Regions from separate parts of the Homo sapiens genome. Here region 2 is linked to region 1. The links come from fine-mapping of genetic effects on gene expression. A gene starts in region 1. The other region holds a variant in brackets. All regions are shown on one strand. Distances are from middle to middle.

The links. PIP is the estimated chance that this variant, and not a neighbour inherited with it, causes the effect.
Region 2: its variant is fine-mapped to the expression of DUSP12 in whole blood (TOPMed, PIP above 0.99).

Annotation. Positions count from the first base shown.
Region 1 is chr1:161,745,358-161,756,645 of GRCh38, forward strand. It overlaps DUSP12 (dual specificity phosphatase 12), which reads left to right and starts at 4,429. Exons shown (of 6, transcript NM_007240.3): 1 at 4,429-4,788; 2 at 6,311-6,424; 3 at 6,509-6,627; 4 at 7,011-7,107; 5 at 7,718-7,904. The coding sequence starts at 4,445. RefSeq lists enhancers at 2,427-2,506, 2,607-2,656, 4,228-4,737, 4,799-5,445.
Region 2 is chr1:161,363,467-161,374,754 of GRCh38, forward strand. It overlaps CFAP126 (cilia and flagella associated protein 126), which reads right to left and starts at 4,410. Exons shown (of 5, transcript NM_001013625.4): 1 at 4,376-4,410; 2 at 2,973-3,035; 3 at 2,732-2,812; 4 at 2,060-2,236; 5 at 1,267-1,684. The coding sequence starts at 4,402. The coding sequence ends at 1,499. RefSeq lists an enhancer at 1,713-2,215. The variant C/A (reference allele first, on the strand shown) is at 5,464.

The DNA of each region.
Region 1 (11,288 bases):
TCCTGAAAGCAACTGTGAACACCATCTGCATCATCCTTCTTTCTCCCTTTTCCAACAACACATTTACACTTCGATGGGGCTTTCTGGCCTTTGTGCCTTTGAAGATGTTGGTCCTTCCGGTTAGAACTTCTTTCCTCATCTCCCTCCTTTTTCCCTGACAAATTCCCACTCATCCTTCAAGATGCAGATCAAGCATCACCTCCTCTGGGAGGCCATCCCTAATTACCCTCCTTCCATTAGGATTGGATGCCTCCATGTGCTCCCTTAGTACACGGCCCTTGCCTCTACTATAACACTAATTAGCTATTTACTTACTTTCACTCCAGCATTTCACCAAGTTCCTTGAGGGCAAAGACTGTCATACATCTTTATATCCTCAGCATCTACAGTCGTGCCTTATTTTACTTAGCATAATGTCCTCAAAGTTTTTATTGTTGTTGAGATGGAGTCTTGCTCTGTCACCCAGGCTGGAGTGCAGTGATGCGATCTCGGCACGCTGCAACCTCCACCTCCGGGGTTCAAGGGATTCTCCTACCTCAGCCTCCTGAGTAGCTGGATTACAGGCATGCACCACCATGCCCAGCTAAGGTTTTGTTTTCATTTTTGTTTTTTAGGATGGAGTCTCGCTCTGTTGCCCACGCTGGAGTGCAGTGGCATGAGTTCAAGGGGGTTCAAGTGATTCTCCCGCCTCACCCTCCCAAGTAGCTGGGATTACAGGCGCCTGCCACCATGCCTGGCTAATTTTTGTATTTTTAGTAGAGATGGGGTTTCACCATGTTGGCCAGGCTGGTCTTGAACTCCGGACCTCAGGTAATCTGCCTGCCTTGGCCTCCCAAAGTGCTGGGATTACAGGTGTGAGCCACTGGGCCCCGCCTTTTTTTTTTTTTTTTTTTGTATTTTTAGTAGAGACAGGTTTTCGCCATGTTGGCACGGCTGGTCTCAAACTCCTGACCTCAGGTCATCTGCCAGCCTCAGCCCCACAAAGTGCTGGGATTACAGGCATGAGCCACCGTGCCCGACCTCAAAGATAATCTATGTTGTAGCATGTGACAGAATTTCCCTCTTTTTATATGGCTGAATAATAGTTCATCATATGCATATACCATCTTTCTTTCTTTCTTTCTCTTTTTCTTTCTTTCTTTCTTTTCTTTTTCTCTTTCTTTCTCTCTCTCTTTCCTTCCTTCCTTCCTTCCGTCTTCCTTCCATCCTTCCTTCCTTCCTTCCTTCCTTCTCTCTCTCTCTCTCTTTCTTTCTTTCTTTCCTTTTTGGAGACAGAGTCTCGCTCCATCCCTTAGGCTGGAGTGCAGTGGCATGATCTTGGCTCACTGCAACCTCCGTCTCCTGGGTTCAAGCGAGTCTCCTGCCTCAGCCTCCCGAGTACCTAGGATTACAGGCACCCACCACCATGCCCAGCTGATTTTTGTATTTTTAGTAGAGATAGGGTTTTGCCATGTTGGCCAAGCTGGTCTTGAATTCCTGGCCTCAGGTGATCCACCTGCCTCGGCCTCCCAAAGTGCTAGGATTACAGACGTGAGCCACCGCGCCCGGCCCATACCACATTTTCTTTATCCATTAATCCATGATGGACATTTGGGTTACTTCTACCTTTTTGCTATTGTGAATAATGTTGCCATAAATATGGGTGTGCAAATATCTTTGAGATCCCACTTTCAATTCTTTTGGCTATATAACCTAGAAGTGAGATTGCTGGATCATGTGGTAATTCTATTTTTAATCGTTTGAGGAAACTCCGTACTGTTTTCCCTGGTGGGTGCACCATTTTACATTCCCTTCAGCAATGCATAAGCGTTCCAATTTTTCCACATCCTTGCTAACACTTATTTTCTGTGCTTGAAAAAAATACTAGCCATCCTAATGGGTGTAAGATGATATTATTATTGTAGTTTTGATTTGCATTTCTCTAATGATTAGCAATTTGAGCATCTTTTCCTATGCTTTTTGGCCTCTTGTATATCTTCTTTGGAGGAATGTCTATTCAGGTCGTTTGCCCAGTTTTTTGAAAATTGGGTTACTTGTTTTTCTGTTGTCGAGTTGTAGGAGTTTTTTATATGTTCTGCATATTAACGTATCAGATATATGCTTTGCAATTATTTTTTCCCATTCCATACAAATTCCTTTTCTCTCTATTGACTGTTTTGCTTGATATGCAGACACTTTAAAATTTGATATAGTCCCATTTGTCTATTTTCGCTTTTGTTGCCTGTGCTTTTGGTATTTTATCCAAAAAATTGAGGGAGAAGAAAAGGAAAAATCAGTTAGGTAGACAGCTAAGGCTAGCCCTTGGAGAAGCAGTCTGCCTGAAAAATCACAGCTACAAACAAAATAGAGCAGCTTAGGCAAAACTCAGGCTGCACCTGCACAGATAAGCAGGTAGGGTCCAGCACAGACGCTTTTCATTCTTCGTGTAATTGGCGAGCTCCCAGGAAAAACTTTCCTCCCCTTTTCAGGTATATACACAGTGGACTCCGTGGGAACTTGCACAGGAAGGAGGGGGGCTTACCTAAAACAAACCTACAGTGATACAAACAAGAGAACCCACGCTTTGTGCTTGCCTAGAGACATACCCACATCGGCAGAAGATAAGGGAAGTTGCACAGACAGATTTATTCATAAGAGAAGTTACTCAAACAACTATAGAGATGAGAGGAGTTTCTTATAATAGGTTTTGAATTCAGCTGTAAAAATGGCACCCCACTTGGGCTCCCCTCTCTGCTGTGGAGAGCTTTCTTCTTTTGCTTATTAAACTTTTGCTTCAACCTCACTCTTTGTGCCCATGCTCCTTAGTTTTCTCGGTCGTTAGACAAGTTCGGATAACACCTTAGACAATGAGACCATTAACCCTTACCTGTTTCAACATTTTTATCAAATCCAAGGCCATGAAGCTTTCCCCCTATGTTTTCTACTAAGAATGTTATATTTTTAGGTCTTTAATCTATTTGGAGTTATTTTTTGTGTATGGTCCAAGGTAAAGGTCCATCTTCATTCTTTTGCATGTGGATATCTAGTTTTTCCCAACACTGTTGAGGAGATTGTCCTTTTTCCATTGTGTGGTCTTGGCACTCTTTTTGAAGATTATTCTAACATATATGCAGTGTTGCAGGTGATTAGCAGCTTTCTGGGCTGGTGACATGGGTGGTAGGAAGAATTTACCAACACAGTTGTAGGTAAAGAAAGGCAGGTTTATTAGATAAAGTATGAAAATACATTGCAAGGGTGCAACAGGCAGGTCAGCAAGAGAGAAGCTGACTGCTAGGAAACAAAGGCTTGCTGGGGATTTTGTAGAATGGTGCTTATGTTGTGGGTGGAAGAGGGCTTTGTGCAGTACTAATAATGCCAGGGTTGCAGTGAACTAACTTCCATTTTTCTATCAGCTGAGGGTCTGGTGATGGCTGGGCACAGGCAGATTGTGAGTTATTTGCACAGCAGGGCTATGTGTCCTGGACCACGAAGAAAGGCAGACTTATGGCTTGTCTGCTTTCTCCTTTTGCTTCCCTTCGTCCAGCCAGCCTGACTCCTTTTCCCTAATTAGGACTCCACACGCAAGGGTTTGTTCTGTTCCAGAATAGAGACACGTCGATGTATCTATCTTTATACCAGTACTATAGCTGCTACTTCTTGACCAATTACAGCTTTAGTATCTCTCTCACCTGTCCTCCCTATACAAAAGATATATAAAATATACTCACTGTACTGAGTATCTTCCTGCAGCATTCAGTCTGGAGCAAAGCCTGCTTCCTTCAACCCTTTCCAAAATCCCCAAATAAAAGCCCAAAATCTGTAGAGGATCTTCCTAACATCCTCGTGCTGAGATGCCCTGAAATTCTCCATAACTCATGACTGAGTAATAAAACCAACTTGCTTAATTAAAGTTGGTTTCTTGTAGTCCTGGCCGGAGGACATTGACTTACAAAAATATAGGATTAGTATCTTCAAAATAAATAGACAGTAAACATCAACAAGGATTCACACCCCAATAATGAAATTGGGCAGAAAAAGGAAAAATAATCATGAAATGCACAGTAAAGATGGCTCCATAATATTGAAAAAAATTTTACTTCAAATGCATAAAATGATGCTTCTGATTCAGCTGGTGCGACATTTATTTCACATTTGAGTTCAGCTGCTCCTGATGTCTCTTTCCTGAAAATTTCAATACTAAGAGCTCGAGAAACCCTGTATTTGGGGAAGCTTATCCTTCACCATCAACTTTGGGGGTAGGGGTCAGAGGGAACAAGGGTGGAAAGGCCGCGCTGAATGGGGCCGAAGCTCCGCCCCTCAGCGATAAGTCCAGATTCCTGCGGCCGACGTGGTCCTCCGAGGGAGCAGCAGAGCCGCCGAGGCTGGCGAGTCCCAGGGGAAGGATGTTCTAGCCGGAGTCTACTCGATGGTAGGGCAGGAAGCCGCCTTGTCTCTGGGCGCGGCCATGTTGGAGGCTCCGGGCCCGAGTGATGGCTGCGAGCTCAGCAACCCCAGCGCCAGCAGAGTCAGCTGTGCCGGGCAGATGCTGGAAGTGCAGCCAGGATTGTATTTCGGTGGGGCCGCGGCCGTCGCGGAGCCAGATCACCTGAGGGAAGCGGGCATCACGGCCGTGCTAACAGTGGACTCGGAGGAGCCCAGCTTCAAGGCGGGGCCTGGGGTCGAGGATCTATGGCGCCTCTTCGTGCCAGCGCTGGACAAACCCGAGACGGACCTACTCAGCCATCTGGACCGGTGCGTGGCCTTCATCGGTCAGGCCCGCGCTGAGGGCCGTGCGGTGTTGGTGCACTGGTGAGTGGCCGGGTCAGTGGGTGACGTGCCCCGCCAAGCTTCCAGCCGGCCCCCGTCGCCCCTTACCTTCCGAGGCCGTCGGGAGGACAAGAGCGCGGTCATGCCGCGTGAACCTCCTCCCGCTGCCTCCCGCAGGAGGCGTGTTTCCAAGAGAGGAGGAGGGTTGAGGCGGGCCCCTGGTGTGTGCAGGCTTTCATTCATTCATGCTTTAGTTGGTTCTTCCTGCAGCAGCAGAGGGCGGGGGAGGTGTCATCTGATAAATGACAAATTACCTACACCCTAAGGAGTTTACAGCTCTGTTGGAGAAGCTAGACACCCACCCCGATTATTGTAATGCAGATTAGGTTGCTTGGTGTCTTGTAAACGGGATTTACAAAGATTTAGGGTTAAATGTTTTTGTTTGGGATGGGTGGCGGGTGGTTGATGAAGAGATGAATTGGTTTGGATCTAAAGGATCCCTGGGCTTTGCCTAGGGAGGAGATGGTTGCAGCAAAGACAAAAAGAAAATGGGAATCCCGCAGGGCGCGGTGGCTCACGCCTGTAATCCCAGCACTTTGGGAGGCAGGAGGATCACAAGGTGAGGAGTTCGAGATCAGGCTGGCTAATATGGTGAAACCAAAAATACAAAAATTAGCCGGGCGTGGTGGCTCTCGCCTGTAGTCCCAGCTACTCGGGAGGCTGAGGCAGGAGAATCACTTGAACCTGGGAGGCGGAGGTTGCAGTGAGCCGAGGTCATGCCACAGCACTCCAGCCTGGGCAACAGAGCGAGACTCCATCCCTCCCCCCAAAAAAAGAAAATGGGAATCCCTAAGCAGTTCTTGGTTGGATTGGAGTATAATAATCGTTTAAATTTATTGAGCACATAAAAGAAGATAGTGATGAAATCAAAAGAAGTCTGGGACCAGATTTTGAGGTCCCTGAATGCTAAGATGAAAGGAGATTGGATTTGTTTTTGTTTTGTTTTATTTATTTTTATTTTGATATAGGGTCTTGCTCTGTCACCCAGGCTACAGTGTAGTAGCGTAATTACGGCTCACTGCAGTCTCAACCTCCCAGGCTCAAGTGAACCTCCTGCCTCGGCCTCCAGAGTAGCTGGGACTACAGACCCCACCACATCCGGCTAATTTTTTGTAGAGGTGGGGTCTCACTTTGTTGCCCAGGCTGGTCTCCAACTCTTGGACTCAACCAATCCTCTCACCTCGCCTCCCAAAGTGCTGGGATTTCAGGCGTAGGTAAGCCACTGTGTCTAGCCAGGAGTTTGGATTTGTTCTGAGCCATTATAAAAATTTTAAAAATTACTGTTATTATTTTTGAATAGGTAATAGATTCACGTGGTTCAGAATTCAAAAGGAAAAAGGAATAATTATTTTGTACCTTGATAATATTTCAGAGGCAATGGGCTTATTTGAGAAGCAAAAATGAAGTGGGCCTAAACTTTACTATTAATAGGGGGCTGGGCTTTGTGTGTTTTTTTTTTTAATTGTTGCTATTTGCTGTTTTATTTTAAAGGTCTCTTTTTCAGTCATGCAGGAGTCAGTCGAAGTGTGGCCATAATAACTGCTTTTCTCATGAAGACTGACCAACTTCCCTTTGAAAAAGCCTATGAAAAGCTCCAGATTCTCAAACCAGAGGCTAAGTGGGTTCTTTTTTTATAGTAATAATTATGCTTTTGTGATATAATTTTAAGAAAATGAAACTTTATATTTCTTTATCATTACAGGATGAATGAGGGGTTTGAGTGGCAACTGAAATTATACCAGGCAATGGGATACGAAGTGGATACCTCTAGTGCAATTTATAAGCAATATCGTTTACAAAAGGTTACAGAGAAGTATCCAGGTAAGTAATAATTGCTAGTGTGTAATGGGCTTTCTAGATGACATTTACTTTAGCATTGTATGCTTTACCTTACTTCCAGCAATCCCTGAGAAACTATTGTTTCTTTTTGAAACTGATTTAGCCAGAAATAACCTATTCAAAATCACATGGTTTATAAATGGCAGGGTCAGGATTTGAATTCAGGCAGCCCGTGCCCAGAACCTAAGCACTTAAATCACTGTCCTCTCCTACCTTAGCCTGATTTCTCAACACTGGAATTTGATTTTTTTTTTTTTTTAATTTTTGAGGTTAGCACTTGTTGCCTCAATTTGACATTAACTGAATTTATCTGAAAATGCAGAGTTGATTTTGACAAATAAATACATTTTAATTATGTCATATAGAATTGCAGAATTTACCTCAAGAACTCTTTGCTGTTGACCCAACTACCGTTTCACAAGGATTGAAAGATGAGGTTCTCTACAAGTGTAGAAAGTGCAGGTAAACTATTTTATATCCTTTGGATATTTTATCTTGTCTCAGTAGCTGAAAAGTACTTAATGTTTTATTTTCTTAAATTTCTGTAGGAAGATTTTGTTTAATTGAAATTTTTAGTTCAGATCTGTTTTCAGAAAGAATATAAATTCTTAAAAAGAGAAATAATCAGATTGTAAGGGTTATTGAAAATTTAAGTAGTGTAATCAATGTTACATTATTTTGTTCTCTAAGCAATATTGCACATTTTGCTGGGCGCAGTGGCTCACGCCTGTAACCCCAGCACTTTGGGAGGCCGAGGCAGGCAGATCACCTGAGATTGGGAATTTGAGACCAGCCTGGCCAACATGGTGAAACCCCGTCTCTATTAAAAATACAAAAATTAGTTGGGCATGGTGGCTGGTGCCTGTAATCCCAGCTACTCAGGAGGCTGAGGCAGGAGAATTGGTTGAACCCAGGAGGCGGAGGTTGCAGTGAGCCATGATCACGCCACTGCACTCTAGCATGGGCGACAGAGTGAGACTCTGTCTCAAAAAAAAAAGAAATACCGCACATTTCATCCATGTTTTCATCCTTTTGGAAGTCATTAATGCTTTTGTTTGTTTGGGGGTTGCAGGCGATCATTATTTCGAAGTTCTAGTATTCTGGATCACCGTGAAGGAAGTGGACCTATAGCCTTTGCCCACAAGAGAATGACACCATCTTCCATGCTTACCACAGGGAGGCAAGCTCAATGTACATCTTATTTCATTGAACCTGTACAGTGGATGGAATCTGCTTTGTTGGGAGTGATGGATGGACAGGTGAGAACACATTTTATTTTCTACAATTTTATTTTATGATCTATATTTTATTCCTTCTTGCATTTTAAGCTCTATTTTAACTAGTGTTTTGCTCCATTTCTTAATTTCTTTATTTCTGAAGATTATATCTTTCTAGTGTAGATAAGACTATCAAAAATAAAATATTTTTCAAAAACCAGCTGATCCAACATAGTGAACTACTTCTGGTTGAGAGCCCTGGTCTAAGTTAATAAATTTCCTTTAAGGCTATTTATATTTTTTTCAAATATAAGACTAACATTTATTTTTAAACTAATTAGAATATATTGGCTGGGCACTCTTGCCTCATTAGCTCATGCCTGTAATCTGAGCACTTTGGGAGGCTGAGGCGGGAGGATCACTTGAGCCCAGGGTTTCGAGACCAGCTTGGGCAATATAGTGAGACCTCATCTCTATAAAAGAAAGTAAAAAATTTTTAATAAGAAAAAAAGAAAAGAAAAAATGTATTAAACAAAATTTGAACTTTGTAACAAGATAGGGTAAATCAGGGATTTTAAAATTAGGTTAAAAATTCTGTCTTTCTTTTTCTCTGTTGGCTTCCTGTATGTGTCTTTCTCTTTTTTCTTATCTTTTAGGAGAGTGAAATTTAGTTTGTTTTGCTATGAGATTCTTTTTCATTTCCAGTTAAATAATGCAGCTCATCCTATTGCTCCTGTAACCAGTGGGTAGGGAAATAAAAAAAGAATGCAGTTCATGTGACATTTTACATAAAAAAGTGTTTAACTTGGTTGGAGTGTGCCATGACAGCCACATTTCTCCTTTAGGTTTACTTGATATTAATGTGAAGGTATTCTATAATAATCATCTTAATAATGATTTTGAAAGTTTGTATGGTTTGTATAAAAGTTTGTATAGTGGCTAGTTTATGAAACCCTTTCACTGTATTATACCATTTGAAGAATGCCATAGCTTTATAAAATAGGTAGAGCAGTTATATTCACGTGTTGTGCATGAGGAAACTGTTTATGAGTAGTGTCTTGCCTAGAAAGTGGTACCATATAATCAAACTCACATTTTCGGATAATGCTGCTTTTTTTAAAAAAAACAGCCTTATTATAGTATAATTCACATAACATGCAATTTACCTATTTAAGGTGTATAGTTCAGTGGCTTTTAAAGTGTATTCACAGTGGTTTTTGCAACCATCGTGTATTAGTCTATTTTCACACTGCCATAAAGATAGTACGTGAGACTGGGTAATTTATAAAGGAAGGAGGTTTAATTGACTCATGGTTCTGCATGGTTGGGGAGGCCTCAGGAAACTTATTATCATGGCAGAAGGGAAAGCAGGCCACTTCTTCACAAGGCGGCAGGAGAGAGAAGCATATGTGAAGGAGGAACTGTCAAACACTTATAAAACCATCAGATCTTATGAGTGCTCATTCACTATCACGAGAACAGCATGGGGGTATCTGCCTCCATGATCCAATCACCTCTCTTCTTCCACACTTGGGGATTACAATTTGAGATGAGATTTGGATGGGGACACAGAACCAAACCGTATCACATCACAATTCACATTCCCACTCTTCCCATTCTTTTTTTTTGAGACGGAGTTTCACTCTTGTTGCCCAGGCTGGAGTACAATGGCACAATCTTGGCTCACCACAACCTCTGCCTCCCGGGTTCAAGTGATTCTCCTGCTTCAGCCTCCTGAGTAGCTGGGATTACAGGGATGCGCCACCACGCCTGGCTAATTTTGTATTTTTAGTAGAGACGGGGTTTTTCCATGTTGGTCAGGCTGGTCTCGAACTCCTGACCTCAGGTAATCCACCTGCCTCAGCCTCCCAAAGTGCTGGGATTACAGGCGTGAGCCACCATGCCCAGCTGCAATTCCCATTCTTGATGGTATTATTTGTAGCAGTTAGAGATTTTAATTTTGATGGTATCTAATTTATCAGTTTTTCTTTTTTGTGGCTTGTGATTCTGGCTTTCTAATTTTACTTAACCTGGGAAACACACACACACACTCCAGCCAAGTTAAATACATTTTTATGTAAGATTCTAAATCCTGTGCATACTTATTTGTATACATATTTGATTTTTTTCTGTAGAATATGTACCTAGAAGTGGAATTCCTGGCTCGAAGAATGTATTTTAAATATTAGTGATATTCCAGGCTGATATTCAAAATGCCCATACAAATTTGGTTTTCAGTAACTGAATGCATGTACCCGTTACTCCATATCCTTGACATAATAGATACTATAAAACTGGTAACATTTTGTCAGTCTGTGGGGTAAAAAATGTTAATCCTAAAATGTTTAATTGGAATTTTATGAAAATAGTCATCAACCACCATCTTTATATATTTACCAGCCATTTACTGTTTTCTTTTCTATAAATTGCTTTCATATTCCTAGGCCCATTTGCCTATGGGTTTTGTCTCTTTCTTACTCATTTGTAGGACCTCTATATATTCTAGATGTTAATAGTTCATCTAATATATTGCAACTATTTTCTTCAGTCTATTGCTTATCAGATTTTTTATGTTTTGTCATATTAAAATGAAGGATATTTACATAATAAAATTTGTTAGTTTTTTTATTTATGGCTTCTGAATTTCTTTTTTTTGAGACGGAGTCTTGCTCTGTTGCCCAGGCTGGAGTGCAGTGGTGTGATCTTGGCTCACTGCAACCTCCGCCTTCTGGGTTCAAATATTCTCCTGCTTCAGCCTCCCAGGTAGCTGTGATTACAGGCATCCGCCACCATGCCCAACTAATTTTTGTGTTTTTAGTAGAGACGGGGTTTCACCATGTTGACCAGGCTGGTCTCAAACTCCTGACCTCAGGTGATCTGCCCGCCTTGGCCTCCCAAAGTGCTGGGAATTACAGGTATGAGCCACCACACTCAGCCTGCTTCTGAGTTTTATGTCTAGTTTTCTATAGCTCAAGATTAAAAATAAAAACTCTTACCTTATACCATGCATAAATCAAAGAGCTAAACATAAAAATTAATGCTATAACTAACTACATTAGAAGAAAATGCAGTTGCCTTATTAGGCTTTTTTGATTTACCTATTTTCCTGGAATATCAGTTTGTCTTTAAATAGCTAAGAATCTGACTTATATGCTGTCAATACACACAGTTAGTAATACAGCATGAAAATCCTAACATGCTTTTCTATACTTTAGCCGTGATCATTTTCATTTGAAGTCCTAAATTACAAACTGATTTAAAAGCTATATATATATATATATATATATATATATATATATATGCCACATCCATGAAACCTTCCTTAATCAAATCTCAAGCTTCACTTTTCTCCCTTCAAGCTCCCTGAATACAACATTCTTCCTATGAGATAATTGTAGTCTACTATCTATTACAGTAAATTTCCAA
Region 2 (11,288 bases), 380 kb before region 1:
GCACCAAAATCCCATTAAGGACTGATTATAAGCTTCATGGTACAGTTCAGCAAATTATGATTCATTGAGGGGCACAGAGGACCAGTGTTGGTGACAGCTAGGGGATGATGACCTGAGGTTATAGGCTTGGGGTGAATGAAGCATAGAGTTTTTTTTTAAAAAAGAAGGGATTGTTGAAAACCTGGCAAAAATGTATAATTTAATGAGAAAACTTGCTGCTTTTAAAATCCATATAGGCCAGGCTTTAGCAGGCATGCTGTTTTGATAGTTTTTGGGAACTCTGGAATAAGAGACTTATCTCATCTGTCACTTCGAGTTGTTGGCCAGCCAGTTAAAGCTGTGGGTCGAAGAGGGGAAATGTTAACTGGCTGGTGTCAATTGGATAGGAAGACCTTAGTTAAGGTGGGGACCCGCTGTTTTAACAGTCTTCATTCAGGGTCCCAAATAGTATTTGGCTTTAAGTAATGATTGGTTTTCCCTTTTTACTAGAGGGGCCCTGGGAAGTCCTTGTACCTTTCCTCCATTTTAAACCAGCTGTTCTCTACTTTGTCCTTGGAATGAGGGACAAGTGATCATGACAGAACACTTTGTCATTGGGACTGGGAAAGGTTTGGCAAGGGCATTAAATTTAACAGCCAGTGCCAGGAAAATATAAAATGGGGTCAATGATAAACAGCTGTTAGAGGCTGGAAAATGGGTAGGGCAGTTGAATTTTTTGGTGGTTTCGTACCATTTGGGTGATTGAAGCATGGTAGTGGGTGGGTGGGGGGTGTGACAGAGCATCATGTTTGTTATTCTGCCTTAAATTTCTACTTACTGTCTTTTTCTTCTCTGTCTTCCAATCACTTTAATATCTTCAATTTTCAAACTATATTTGTACTTGGGCTTAGATAGAAAGTCTTACACAAGCATAGTATCTTCTACTTTGGTTTTCCCTACCTTTTCTTCCCCACCTTCTCCAAACACACATATACATACTCTACTCAATTCTATTTCTGATTTTGTAGTTGTTAGTTGTCCATGCTCAGGATAAAAAATGAGTGGGTAGGGTTGAGGGACTGGTTCTTTGAGGTTCTGCCCTTTTTCCATGATTCAGACCAACTTTCTCTTGGTCATTTCTGGAGTATAACTGACTCAATTCTTGTAAAAATGTGTTCCACCCAAACCACTGTATGTTCTTTTCCCTACTTTATTTTCTCCTACCTTCCTTCTCCTAATTGTGTTACAAGAGGCAGCCATAGCAAGAATGGAAAATCCAGATCAGTAAAAGATTCAACAAAAAAAAGTTTATTTTCCAAATTTGCTTTTACTCCCACCCCAAAATTTCCCTGTTTCACAGTTCTGACTGGGGGCTCTTGTTTATTTCACTGAGTCGCTATACGGGTTTTTCAGTGTGTGGCCACTTGGTCCATATGAAGTTCCAGGTTTGTATTTCTGGACCTCAGCTAGATTAGGCCCTGCCCAGAGTTCTAGCATACGTGGACTTCCAGGTGGGCTCTTAGGATTTGGCTGGTCTTTGGGGACCTGGAGTATGACCTGCAGAGGGGTGTGAGCTTTGGAGTTCATCTGGGGAATTGAGGTTGGCAGCTGGGGAGCTTGGAATTATGGTTGGACTTCGTGCTTGTTGTACAGTCTTTGTGATAGACTTCTTTCTGAGTTTCTTCTGACTGTCTGGATCATGGGGCTGTCAGTGATAAGAGTGGGAGAGATAGTCATGTCTCTGGTCAGGCCCGGATCATTCCTAATGCACCTCAGGATTCTAACTCCCTTTCTCCCCATACCATGGGCAGTAGATCAAGTTTCAAATAAGAAAAGTTAAATTTGATTTCTCTAACCACCCTCCCCCACCTTGAGATTAGATCATTTTCTACTGTTGGGGGTATGATGTCCTTAGCCCATCCCTTCAGGCCTCAGAAGGTGATTAAGGACTAGTCAAGATAAGACAAATTGGTTAGAGGTCCCCCATGCTGGGATAGTGGTGGCATAACAATAGACATTTTTTGAGGTTGAAAAGAAATTGAGACTACAGGGTTTTGGGTTAGATGGGAAGAATAGATACCTTGCCTAAGATTTCAGGACACAGCCCATTGGAGGCCTTGAGTAAATCAGGATTTTTCTGTATCCATTTGGTGAGGGAGGCAGCACCAGCAGTTGTACGGGAGGTCAGGGTCACCCGAGCAGGGGGTATCTTCAGAGGCATTTGCCAGGTGCCCATGAAGGAACCCCAAGGATTTGCCTAAAAATGAAAAGGGATTCCTCAGTAGGGCTTCTCACTCCCAGTAACTGACTTAGACCTCTGTATTATTTCCTTTCTTTACCTTTAGGAATGCATGGTTATGAAACAAGACTGAAAGCATAATCTTCCCACCCTTCCTTATCCCCCTCCCTCATTTAGGCTTTGCAGGCCTAATTTTTTCATCCCCTTTACTCTGCCAACTTAAATTCCACATCCTTAGGCCGAGTGTGGCAAAGGAGTACCCACTGCACAAATGTCATCACCTGAAGGCTTTCATTTATACAGATCATTGATCAATTTAAGAACTTCTGAAGGGTGCTAAACACAACTCTATCCTGCTGGGTAAGCTGGCCGGAAGTTCAGGGGCTCTCACATTACAACATGAATTAGATTAAACTTTAATTTTCCCGATAATGGCTGTGAGAGACTGCACATCTCCCAGTTCTGTGCCTTAATTATTTGACTTTCTTGATAGGAGTGAAGATAGTATCTCACCTTGGAACGGGGCACAGAAGGCAGTAGATGACCACGATCGTTGGCAATAATTTGAGTGTAGCCTTCATGAGAAGAGATGCTCTGGGGTACAAGTGGGAGAGATAAAGGTTTGTGAGGGGAAAAAGGGAAGTATTTGGGGAGCTTGGTCAGAGAAGGATATGGGAGTTTAGAGAATGCTAAAAGGAGTTAATTGACAGGGAGAGCATGAGGCTATCTTGTAGGTGCACTGAACATGGAATACCTCTTTTGTTGGCTTAGTGGGAGACCAGTTCTGCAGATACTTGGATGAGAAAGCCTTTTCATACTGTGGAGAGAAAGATAAGTAGCCCTATGAGACTTCAAGGCCCCAAACCCAGGAAATGAAGACTAGGCACAATTCTTTAGATTTGAAGACCAAAGGCCTGACCAACCATGTAGGCTTTAAGTCACTATGACAAGGGTGTAATTTGTTTGGTCTAGATGTGTGCTGTCCAGCATGGAGCCGGGAGCCACATGGAGCTGTTGAGCACCTGAAATATGACTAGTTCAAATTGAGGTGCTTTGTAAATATGAAATATGCTGAATTTTTAAGTTTTTTTCTTTTCTTTTTTTTTTTGAGATAGGATCTTGGTCTGCCACCTGGGTTGGAGTCAGTGGCATGATCCTAGCTCACTGCAGCCTTGGACACCTGGGTTCAAGCGATCCTCCTCCCTCAGACTCACAGGTAGCTGGGACTACAGGTGCATGCCACCATGTCCAGCTAATTTTTAAATTTACTTGTAGAGACGAGGTCTCACCATATTGCCCAGGGTGGTCTCAAACCCCTGGCCTCAAGCGATCCTTGTGCCTCAGCCTCCCAAAGTGTTGGGATTACAGACGTGAGCTACAACACCCAGCAGGTTTTGGAGATTTAGTACAAAAAAAGAACGTAAAATGTCTGATTATAATTTTTTAAATACTGATTAAATGTTGAAATAATATTTGGATTTATTGGGTTAAATTCAATATATTTAAATTTTATGTTTTAATTTTTTCATGTAGCTACTAGAAAATTTAAAATTACATTTGTGGGTCGCACTCTTTTTGTTGGGCAGCACTGGTCTAGATCAGGAGTTGGTAAACTATGGCCTATGGGCCATATCCATATTGCTGCCTGTTTGGGGATGGCCTGAGAGTAAGGGTGATTTTTATAGATGAACATTTACAATTGATTCAGTCAAATGGAACACTAACTTTGAATCCCAGTTAAGTGAAATGTTTTCTCAACCCCCAAAATTCCATTATTTTCATTAGTAGTACAAAAAATTGTACTCAGTTATATTTTGAATTTGTCAAAAATGTTATGGAAAAATGTTTTTCTTTAATTATGCAAGTAGCTACAGAATATTTTTGACTTTGCCACTTGGCCTGCAAAGCCTAAAATTTTTACACTCCGCCCTTTTACAGAAAAAAAATTGCCAACTTCTGGTTTACACCCTACAAATTTAACCAAGAGATACCTTTGGATCGCCCCTGGGCTCTCTCTATCCCTGAGGAGGTAAAATATTATCTCACTCCACTCTCAGCTATCTGTTCAAAGATCAGAATCCTATGAGAGGGGACAGTCCAAAGATAGAATCTGAAAAACAAAAGTAAACGTTAAAGAAATGGAGAATGGGAACTTACCTGGTTGGCACTGTAGTTAGTGGCCATGATCTTGTGCTGTTTACACTCGTTGCTTGGCAACTGCAGAAGGCCGACCTCCTGGGACTACCAATGAGCAGAGGCTGCCTTTCTCTTCTGCTTATTATTATTCACTTCCTTGGCTCACACTGCCCCCATTTGTTTTCTCTGGAACTTAGATTCATTTTTATTTTACAGACGGGAAAGACTGAGTAAATGTGAGAAAATTAGCTGAATAGCCACTACTTTTTTTCTGGCATAACCTACCCCTGCTTAAGAACTTCCACGGGCCTTTGATTGGGGTTTTTAACCACTTTAACAAACCATGTAACCCTGAGAGCTATGCTTGTTGGACAACATGGTGTAATGTACCACAGGCTGTAGAGCCAGATACTGGGGTTTGAATCCTTATTCAACATGGGAACATAGGAGCTATATGACATTAAACAACTGTCTTGTCTTCACTAAATTTCTATCAACTCATTTGTATTGTGGGGATAATAGAGCCTGCTTTTACAGGGTAAGTGAGATAAAATGAATAAAGTGTCTAGACAATATCATAGCATAGTAGGTATTCAATCCTGGTGAGATCCTGTTTATAAGGCCCACTACTTTGTCTTATCAGGCAGAATAACAAAGGAACAATATTTAAAAAGCAACTAGCTCAAATCTGTCCCCAGAAGGAAAAACATATCTTGTCCTTGGTCCTTAAAAAATTTCCTCTGTCACTGTCTAGAATCAGCACCTAAGAACACAGGCGTTTAGTGTTGACTGGAATAAAATGGAATCGGGTGCTGGTGCAGGGAGATTGAGCAGGGATGAAGAGAGAAAATCACAGAGTGGAAAGGATCAGGTTTGGAGAGTTCAATGGGGGGCTGCCAGGACATAAGCCTAATATGTGTGGGACAAGGAAACCCCTCTGAAACTCATAAAATGGTATTGTAATACCCATCTATGAGGTGGTTAGGAGAATTAATAAGTAAGTAGAACTGTGCTTTGTGAATTGTAAAGTGAATTTATATATAAGGTGTCAAGATGAAAGGGAAAAACTAAGAAATAAGTTGCCCAAAGATATCATTAGGACCAGGAGA[C/A]CATTATAAAGTATATCCAGGCCGGGCACGGTGGCTCATGCCTGTAATCCCAGCACTTTGGGTGGCCGAAGCAGACGGATCACAAGGTCAGGAGTTCGAGACCAGCCTGGCCAACATGGAGAAACCCTGTCTCTACTAAAAATACAAAAAATTAGCCAGGCATGGTGGTGCATGCCTCTAATCCCAGCTACTCGGGAGGCTGAGGCAGGAGAATTGCTTGAACCCGGGAGGCGGAGGTTGCAATGAGCAGAGATCATGCTACTACTGCACTTCAGCCTGGGCGACAGCGTGAGACTCCGTCTCAAAAAATAAAAAATAAATAAAGTATATCCATCAGTCCCTTCTCTTTTCCTTCTTCCCCCAAAATCCTCATCTTAACCAACACACCAAGTATAAGAGCACTCCTATGCTTCTGCAGATGGAGGGAAGAACAGCTCTTGTTTTATAGGCTCTGGAGTTAATACCTGGATAATGTGAGATCTGGAAAGATAACTCATGAGCTTAGTCCCTGTGGTTCTTATCACTCTCTAGAGAAGAGTTCTTTAAGGACCAAGGACTATCTTTGCTCTAGGATATCCATTTTGGCCCTTTAATCTGCAATGATAGGCTAGCATTATTTCTCTTAGAATTTGTCTTCAGTTGGTATGCCTCCCTCTGCCTTTCTGATAGGAATGTAATGATAAATGATGACTGCACTCATTTTTAAAAGTTAACCAGTTTTTGTTCAATTGAAAAAGTAATGTACATGGAAAAAATTTCATGTTTACAGGATGTTCAGTGAAAAGCAAATCTCCATTTGATTTCAACTCTCAGTCTTGCTCCTCAGGGCAACTGCTGTTACTCATTTCTTGTGTCTCCTTCCAGAAATCTTCTCTGCATACAAACACTAATGAGAGAGCTGTCCACATTGCTTTTTGATTTGCTTTTTGACTATCTTGGGGATTATGTTTTTATCATAATATTCCATTTTGGGATGCACCATAGTTTGTTCAGACCCATATGGATGACCATTTAGTTTATTTATAGTCTTTTGCTAATAAGGACATTGCTGTAATGAAAAATCCCTATGTATCTTTATGAATATGTATGTATGTATTTTTATGTACATATGTGATCTGTAGGATAAATGTTTTAAAGTACATTGCAAAGTCAAAAGGGTTTGTGCATTTAAAATAAGTAGATAGGCCGGGTGCGGTGGCTCACATCTGTAATCCCAGCACTTTGGGAGGCTGAGGCGGGCGATCACGAGGTCAGGAGATCGAGACCATCCTGGCTAACATGGTGAAACCCCATCTCTACTAAAAATACAAAACATTAGCTGGGCGTGTGGCGGGGGCCTGTAGTCCCAGCTACTCAGGAGGCTGAGGCAGGAGAATGGCGTGAACCCAGGAGGCGGAGCTTGCAGTGAGCCACGATCGCGCCACTGCAGTCCAGCCTGGGAGACAGAGCGAGACTCCGTCTCAAAAATAAATAAATAAATAAAATAAAATAAGTAGATAATGTCAAATTACCACTGAAAGACATTGTGCCAGTTTGTACTTCTACCAGTGGTGTATGATGGCGTATGAGTGCCTAGTTCTCTGCTTTCTTTTCAACATCATCGTTTTTTCTTTTTTTTTCAGTTTAAACCAATTTTAATTGAACTAATAGAATTGAACTAATAGAACTAATTGATTGAACTAGTAGAACTAATGTTAACTGAGCAGTTACTATATACATGCCAGGCACAGTTCTAATTGCTTTACTACATTTTCTCATTTAGTTCTCAACCCAACCAAGGAAACTGGAGAATACACAGTGAGGAGTAGAGCCAGGATTTAATCCCAAGTATTCTGACTCTAGAGCCAGCAGTTTTAACCATTATATCATATTGCTTGTTAAGCTGTAGGTTAAACATGGTATATAATTTTATTTTTTGTTTTTGTTTTGAGACGGTCTCCCTGCCGCCTAAGCTCTGGAGTGCAGTGGTTCCATCAATATCCTGAGGTCAAGCAATCCTCCCACCTTAGCCTCCCAAGTAGTTGGGAGTATAGGCATGAGCTACCATGCCCAGCTAATTTAAAAAAACAAATTTTTTTTAAGAGATAGGGTCTTAACTATATTGTTCCTCTTGTCTTGAATTCATGGCCTCAAGTGATTCTTCGACCTCTGGAAGTGTTGAGATTACAGGCACGAGCCACCACACCCACCCAACATGGTATATCATTGTTTTAAATTTGCATTTCTTTAATTAGGGTGTTTTTATATGTGTATAAACTGTTTTTATTTTAATTTTTTTCCCTGAAAATGGCCTTTAATGTATTTTGCCACTTACTATTGGGCTGTTGACTTTTTTTTTTGAAACCAGTCCTCCCTCTGTCACCCAGGCTGGAGTGCAGTGGCATCATCTTGGTTCACTGTAACTTCTGCCTCTCAGGTCCAAACAATCCTCCCACCTCAGCCTCCCGAATAACTGGAACTACAGGGATGCACCACCACACCCAGCTGATTTTTTAATTTTTTTTGTAGAGATGGGATTTTGCCATGTTGCCCAGGCTGGTTTTGAACTCCTGGGCTCAAGCCATCTGCCCACCTCAGCTTCCCAAAAAGCTGGGATTACAGGCTTGAGCCACTGCACCCAGCCTGTTGATCATGTTCATTAATCTGTTTGAACTCCATATATTAAGGAAATTAGTCCTTTGTCAAATATGTTGCAAATATTCCCTCCAATTTGTCACTTACTTTCATTTTGTTGGTGGTTTTTCTGTTTTGTTGTTGTTTTTCTGTGGGTTTTTTTTTTTTTTTTTGCCATGGACATGTTTTTAGTACTTATGTAGTAGTCAGATGTATTACTCATTTTTTCTGTGCTCTGGATCTTATGCTTTGAATGGCTTTTTGTGAATTCCAATATTTTAAAAATAATTTACCCCTAGCTTCAGTTCTTACATTTAAATATTTGTTCCTTCTGGAATTTTAGTGAATGTGGACAAGGTTATGCTTCAGTTGCCTTAACTAGTTGCCTTGGCATCATTAATAAGTTTTCTTTTCCTCTACTGATTTGAAATGCCATTTTTAATGTATTCCCTAACATATTTGGGTCTGTTTCTGGATCCTCTAACCCACTGTTCTAGAGAGAAAGGTGATCGTTTTAGATTATTTGTCTCTCTGTAATCTAAAATCCAAGGTACACGCTGGGCACAGTGGCTCACACGTGTAATCCTAGCACTTTCGGAGGCTGAGGCAGGTGGAACAGTTGAGGACAGAAGTTCGAGACCAGCCTGACCAACATGGCGAAACTCTGTTTCTACTAAAAATACAAAAATTAGCTGGGCATGGTGACACGTGCCTGTAGTCCCAGCTACTCGGGAGGCTGAGGCAAGAGAATCGCTTGAACCCGGGAGGTGGAGGTTGCAGTGAGCCGAGATTGCGCCACTGCACTCCATCCCCCGGGCGACAGAGTGAGACTCCATCTCAAAAAAAAGAAAAAAAAAGGCCAGGCGCGGTGACTCACGCCTGTAATCCCAGTACTTTGAGAGGCTGAGACGGGAGGATCACGAGATCAAGAGATGGAGACCATCCTGGCCAACATGGTGAAACCCCGTCTCTACTAAAAATACAAAAATTAGCTGGGCGTAGTGGCGCGCGCCTGTAGTCCCAGCTACTCCAGAGGCTGAGGCAGAAGAATCGCTTGAACCCGGGAGGCGGAGGTTGCAGTGAGCCGAGATTGCGCCACTGTGCTCCAGCCTGGCGACAGAGTGAGACTCCGTCTAAAAAAAAAAAAAAAAAAATCCAAGGTGGAGTCCTGGCTTGATCCTATGTGAATTCTAATATTTAAGATTTCAGGCCGGGCGCGGTGGCTCAGGCCTGTAATCCCAGCACTTTGGGAGGCCCAGGGGGGTGGATCACAAGGTCAGGAAATCGAGAGCATGCTGGCTAACACGGTGAAACTCCGTCTCTGCTAAAAATACAAAAAATTAGCCCGGCGTGGTGGGGGGTGCCTGTAGTCCCAGCTACTCGGGAGGCTGAGGCAGGAGAATGGCGTGAACCCGGGAGGTGGAGCTGGCAGTGAGCCGAGATCGCGCCACTGCACTCCAGCCTGGGCGACAGAGCGAGACTCCGTCTCAACAAAAAAAAGATTTCACTAGGAAATTGTAATATCAGTAGTAACAGGCAATTTTAAGCTTCTAATAAAAGTGTATTGAATTTTAGCCTTTCTTCAGATGAACTGGTTGACTTCAGGTACAGCAGATGGTCTTTTACTAGGACCAGATTTACTTCTTCCAAAGTTGGAAGGGCTCTTTAAAGGCCCCATCCTTTACGTATGCCTTAAGATACTTTTTTCCATTCACTTAAATTCTTTGATGACTGAAACTAAACCATTAGGAAATCTTTTATTTGGACTGAGATTATCTGCTATTGAAGTACAAGTTTAACCTGTACTCTATAGGCGATGTGTACATTGGACCTACGTGAAGGCAACCACCAGCATAAGTACTAGAGTCACATTGCCTGGATTAAATTCTGGCTTTGCCTAAATGTGTGGCCTTACACAAGTTAATCTTTCTGGGTCTCAGTACCCTTACATGTAAAATGGGGATAATCTTAGTTTTGAGCATTAAATATATGTAACATGCTAATAGGGTGCAAGATGCATAATGAATGCTCAATTATTTTAGCATTATTATTGGCTTAAGACTGCCAAGTAAGAAGTACTCATTCAGGTTACCTTAAACAAAAAAGGGGAAGTGGGGAAATTATAATTAATAGGAGTATTTAACAGATTCCAAAGGTAGGAAGTATAGTTTGGGCTTCAAAGGATACTAGAATTTCAAAGATAGAACATGATCAGAAAGATTTTCTGTTTCTTCTTTATCATCTCTGTTTCTCACTGCCTTTATTCTTTTCTTTTCTTTTTTTTTTTTTTTTTGAGATGGAGTTTCGCTCTTGTTGCCCAGGCTGGAGTGCAATGTGCGATCTCGGCTCACCGCAACCTCCGCCTCCCGGGTTCAAGCGAGCGATTCTCCTGCCTCAGCCTCCCGAGTAGCTGAGATTTTAGGCATGCACCACCACACCCGGCTAATTTTGTATTTTTAGTAGAGACAGGGTTTCTCCATGTTGGTCAGGCTGGTCTCGAATGCCTGACCTCAGTTGATCCGCCCACCTCAGCCTCCCAAAGTGCTGGGATTACAGGCGTGAGCCACCGCGCCCGGCCTCCCATGGCAATTTTTAAAACCAGAAAAAATTATTAGTAACCCCTTCATAGTAAAAATGGGGCATTTATCTCATCTATTACACAGTGTAACCACCTGAATCACTGTCTCTAGTTATACCATCAGCTCTCTACTAAGGTTTCTTCTAAGTAGCTCCAAGGTGCCCTCCATGTCACCTCACTGGGTCAGGTGTTGATGGGTCTTGGATAGGAGACCTGGCTTTTGCCCCATTTCCTGGGCTAACAGGATTTCATCCAACCAAGCTACTGGCCAAATTTTGAACTATTCAAACACCCTGGTTTTTGTAGATTTCCTTATAGGAAATGAAGGCGTAGTTCTGACCCCTGAAGAGATGCATGGCTACAAATGTAAAAGCTATAGTTTCAAAACTTCTCTATAGAGTTAAAATAGCTGATCCAGTTTTCTTTCCTGAGACTAAGGCTCCCTCTCTCGGAGACTGCTGTTACATCTCTCCTTTCCACTGACAATACCACAAAAGAATAATATTCTTGATAAGATCCCCTTCCTGAGGAGCCAAAGAACAAGCTTTGTATACTCCCCACACACTGCCTATGGGGTAGCCCTCTCTGCAGCATTCATAGAGCTATTTAACACTATTTCTTTTTCTTTTCTTTC